2 separate regions of the Homo sapiens genome follow, and region 2 is linked to region 1. A link means that fine-mapping ties the variant in region 1 to the expression of a gene that starts in the linked region. Tissue or cell type: whole blood. Region 1 holds a variant in brackets; the other region holds the start of a gene. All regions are shown on one strand. Distances are between the middles of the regions.

The links. PIP is the estimated chance that this variant, and not a neighbour inherited with it, causes the effect.
Region 2: MAP4 starts here. The variant in region 1 is fine-mapped to the expression of MAP4 in whole blood (TOPMed, PIP above 0.99).

The regions. Positions count from the first base shown.
Region 1 is chr3:48,369,377-48,372,059 of GRCh38, forward strand. No RefSeq gene overlaps it. Among named protein-coding and RNA genes, the nearest start is that of FBXW12, 1.5 kb to the right of the region's middle. The variant G/C (reference allele first, on the strand shown) is at 1,488.
Region 2 is chr3:48,015,210-48,017,892 of GRCh38, forward strand. MAP4 (microtubule associated protein 4) reads right to left here and starts at 1,207. Exons shown (of 21, transcript NM_001385682.1): 1 at 1,125-1,207.

The sequences.
Region 1 (2,683 bases):
TTGTATTTTTTTTTTTTTTTTTTGAGACAGGGTCTTATTCTGTTGCCAGGCTGGAGTGCAGCCTCCACCTCCTGGGCTCAAGCAATTCTCATGCTTCAGCCTCCTGAGTGGCTGGGACTACAGGACCATGTTTTATTCAGTTGTTTAGCATTTTAAACTCAAGGCTAAAAATATATCCACTTTCATTCTTCTCCTAATCATTCCAAGTTTTCCCAATTCCCTCTTCTCTTTGAGCCATTAGAGCATAACAGCTAAGAGCACTGGCTCTGGGGCTGACTGCTGGGGTTCAAACCCGGTGCCATTTCCCAGGGGTGTCACTGTGGGCAAGTCACCTAACCTCTGTATGTGTTGGCTCCCACCTATGTGTTCTAAAACTGGTGCCTGGGATTGGTTTTAATCAGGTGTGGCAAAGCGTGCAGACACAGCAATGATTGTCATGAAGGAAGAAGTTTATACTCACAGATCCCTATAAACAAGAGGCCTGGCTCCCCACGCAGGGCCACATGGAGAGCACCAAGGGCAGTCAGGAGGCAGAAGGGGCGGGGCAGCATAGGCCTGAGCCTTTATTGTGTTTTCTGTAAGAAACGAAGAGGGCAGAACAGGGTAAGCCTTTTAGAATGGGCTAGTTTAAATGGTTCTGGCTGGCTTTGAGGCATAGGGGCCGTCTCCAGTTGTCTGGTACCTGGCCCTGGGTTGATTTAGGGCAGGAGGAATATTAACTTGCTGTGTGAGAGTTTGGTAAAGGAGATGATTGTGGGTGTGGGCTGTAGCTTGGTTCGTTTGCATAAAAGGCACTCTCCTTTGCTATCTGGCTAGGCCTGGGAAGGAGAGTCTCTCCCCAGTCAGCAAGATCACAAATGCCAGAGCATCAAGAATACAGAAAATTAAAAATATACAGAGAATACAACTGGCCCTGTGATGGATGCCAGACAAATTCAGAATCTAAGAGAACACGGAGCACCCTGGCAAGGTGGCCAGTAATAGGACTTACCTCATCTAGCCGTTGTGAGGATTAAATAGATGAGCCCCTGTAAATTGTTTAGACGGGTGCCTTGCCTGCAGAAGGCGCCATGAAAGGTGTGCTGTTACTTCTCCCCTTGCTACGCCCCCTTTACTTCCCATGCTGTGTCGTCCCTCCCTCTCTGTCCTACTCTCAGGCTGCCCAACTCCTTATGGATCCCTCTTCTCAGGTTTCCCCAGCTGCCTGCTTTAATCTACTTTCTCCTAGACAATGTCCGGACCATTCTCTCACCTGCATCTTATCTTTTGCTTAGACTATTACGCAGTTACCATTTCACATCTCTCAAATTTTACATCTCTTAACTCTTGTGACATTTAGATTTGTCTTCATCTATTGTTGCAATGTGTCTTTCTCTGCCGCTTTTCTGGTAGCACCCCGCCACCACCACCCCCCAACACACCTTCCTGTTCCTCTATTTTTTTTGTTGTTGTTGTTGAGATGGAGTCTCGCACTGTCGCCCAGGCTG[G/C]AGTGCAGTAGCGCAATCTCAGCTCACTGCAACCTCCACCTCCCAGCTTCAAGCAATTCTCCTGCCTCAGCCTCCCAAGTAGCTGGGATTACAGGCACCCGCCACCACGCCCAGCTAATTTGTTGTATTTTTAGTAGAGACAGGGTTTCACTATGTTGGCCAAGCTGGTCTCAAACTCCTGACCTGGTGATCCACCCGCCTCGGCCTCCCCAAGTGCTGGGATTACGGGCATGAGCCACTGTGCCTGGCCTCTGTTCCTCTATTTCAAATTCATTCATTCACTCATTCGGCAATTTGCTTCAGTTTCCTTATGTTTGCCTCTTTCTCATCTGTCCTCTTTTCCATTTTATTCCTACTCTGTCTCAGTCCACTTACAGTTATATTTCCTATCTGTGTATTTTATAATATTTGTGCTTTAATACTTTTAAAATATCCTTTATTTTACTGTTTCTTCTCTTCCCTTGTCATATTTTAAAGTGTTTTATTTCTCAGCCTTCTATATCTTTGCATTAATTCTGTTCCTCTACAATAGAGTCCGTTCCAAGCTTTCTGTCTTCCTGTGTCCTTCCACGGCTCTGGCTCTCTCTGCATTATTTCCTATTTATGGAATACAAATCTTTTACCCTTGTATTTTTCTCACTCCTCTCCACACACCCCTTGACTCGCCTTTCCCCACGCCCCTCTAGGTGCTTCTTGGTCTTTGCTTTTCCTTTTTATTTCCTCACCATGTCAATTTGTATTTTTCCTCTCTCTTACTACTGTATCATAAATGGGACTCCCGACAACCACTCCCGTGTGTCTGCCTGGAGGCAGCAGTTTTAAGAAGGGTTGGCCACTGAGCCTCACAGAGGGACCCCTGTCTTATGCTGCAGCAAAGTACCATAGACTGGGTGGCTTACAAACAAATTTATTTCTCACAATTTTGGAGGAGAGAAGTCCAAGAGTCACCTGTCAGCACGGTCAGGTTCTGGTGTGGGCCTTCTTCCAGGTTGCAGCTGACACCTTCTCATGTCCTCGCATGATATGAACAGGGCTAGAGAGCGTTCTGGGGTCTCTTTTATAAGGTCACTGGTCCCATCATAAGGACTCTGCCTGTGACCCACTTACCTCCCAAAGGCCCCCCACCTCCAATCACACCAAGGGTTAGAATTTCAACGTAGGAATTTTGAGAGGACACAAACACCCAGGCTATGACA
Region 2 (2,683 bases), 350 kb before region 1:
CTAAAGGTAGGATACTGCTTATAATGCTCACTTATATTTTCTCTATAACTGATAGCCTGTCCTTTTTGGGTGGGTGGGGGCGGGGGCGGTTATGGACAAGACAAGGAACCATAAAGATATCTGGGTTAATGTTTTCTTTTATACGTTTGTTTTTGCATGACATTTAAATGACAGAGAATTCTAAAGCCAACACTAAGCTGCTATCCTAGGACATTAGTGAGAATGCTGTGGCCAAAATATAGTGCTCATTCCTCAGGCTTGAAAGGAACCCCACGTCGCCAGTGTGGGAGATCATTTATAATCTTGATGGATACAGGTATAGCCTGCTTCATAATAATTTAATATTCAACATCAGATTTTTTTTTAGTATGCCTAGCAGGTTTTTAGTTACTAATTAACTTTATTACCCAGATTTGTTTCTTACTGAACTTCTTTCAGAGGCCTGTTATACATCAAGCTGAACTTTGTCTGGCAGCTGTGCTGTTTTTAATTTATTTAACCACAAAACCTTGATTTATACTTTCAAGCAAAATGATATTTTACTTAAAAATAAATCTTTAGCAAGGATGTCTACAGGAATCAACTACCAACTTACACAGTTCACAGACACATATGATTCCTCAGACAAATCTGAATTTCTCCTGCTTCTCCTCCAAACCAGACTTGCAGATAGCAACAGACAACTGAGGAAGATCTTGACTATCCTGAGCAATAAACTACAACCCCCCTGAAGAATATATTAACTGTCCACCCCTAGGTTCCTCCCTACACAGTTCAAGGACAACAGCTGTGCTATTACAAACTGATGGAATTTCCAGGCTTGACAGGGTTCTGTTCGTAACCACCATTTGTCCTGTTCATCATAGGATTAGCAACAGCAGAGAGCCCTTGATTACTAGAATAGCTGAGGCCATCACACAGCTACATTCCTACATGAAAGAACACACTGATATAGGTTTAAAGAAGTTATATTTTACTTTCATGTAGTTACCAGAGTCCCCCCCACCCCCCATTTAAGGGAGCCCTGTTCTCTGGATATAAAAATACTGTATACACTTGCACACACATACTCACATACATAAAACCTTGCATCACAAAGTTAAAAGGCTACCTTGCTTACTTACAGGAACTATCCAGGCAGCTTGTGTTCAGTCCTGACTAAATGCATTTTGGATCAGGCACCTGCCTTCAACATTTCTGTCCAAATGAATTTCAATCTATTTCTCCAGGAAGAACACACCAGATACCTCCCACTGTTAGCCATGTGATACAGGCAGCATGATGTCTGAAGTCTGGTTACGGTTATGTAGGCCAAAATAAGAAATGACAATGACACAGCACTTACATTTCTGATATCACCAACCTTAAGAATGAATCTTCCATTTTATCTAAATTTTTTAAATGAGTAAAACTTTAAAAGATTCTTAATACCTAACCCCTCAAAATTTTGAAAAAGGAGCATTTTTTTTAAACTTTACATTTATCCCACTTCCTTCCTCTAACACAGGAAAACATTCAGAGTTAATCTATACCAATCCAAAAATTATTTCTAACCACATTCTAAAGGCATTTTTTTTTTTTTTGAGACAGGGTCTTGGCCTGTTGCCCAGGCTGGAGAATGCAGTGGCATGATCTCAGCTCACTACAACCTCCGCCTCCTGGGTTCAAGTGATTCTCCTAACTCAGCCTCCTGAGTAGCTGCGATTGCAGGCATGCACACCACCATGCCTGGCTAATTTTTGTATCTTCAGTAGAGACGAGGTTTCATCATGTTGGCCAGACTGGTCTCAAACTCCTGGCCTCAAGTGATCCACCCATCTTGGCCTCCCAAAGTGCTGGGATTACAGGCATGAGCCACCATGCCTGGCTCTAAAGGCTTACACCAGTTGAACTGATCTAGGATCCAATCCCCTCACTTTAATAGATGGAAAAAAAAATGAGAAATGGAAAAAACAAGTCACTTACAAATGAGGCTGAGACAAAGGATCGGCGAAAAGAGCCACAGAACACCAAAAACAGAAGCAGAGCGTGACAAAATAAGCAAAACCTTACAGTTTTGTAGTTTCTGCTTTTATCTAACACAATGACTTCGCTGTACTTCATATACCTTTTGAATTATACCTGCTTATACATACCTTTACCTACCTACTACTTATACCTACCTATCTTTTCTTCTGCAAGGAGGGAGGCAGGCAGGAAGAATCCTGAACATCAGGAAAACATTCCACCTGATCTTTAAAGGGACCCCAATGCCTAGATGTCTTTTTCTTTTTTCTTTTTTTTTTTTTTTGTAAATCCAAACTCTTACGTGTAATATCAAGGCTGACTGACAAGACTCAGTCCTATCACCCACCATAATCATCAGCAGCTTTCCATGTAGGGTCTCCCTACAATTTAGTCACATGGGACCATCTACCATCTTACATTATCACTGTACACCCTATGCTCATTTGCTCTCCAAACTTGAAGTTATCTTCTCTCCCTCCTCATTTGTGAAAGTCTTGAAATCAAGGTCCACATAAATTGTCTTACCACCTTTTCTGTGACTGCTTTTTAGAATCTTTCTCCCAGTAGTATTCAGAACTAATACATCATCTGTACTTGTAACAGTAGAGTCTGATCTATACTGTAGTTCAGTGGTCCCCAAACCTTTTGGCACCAGGGACAGGTTTCGTGGAAAACA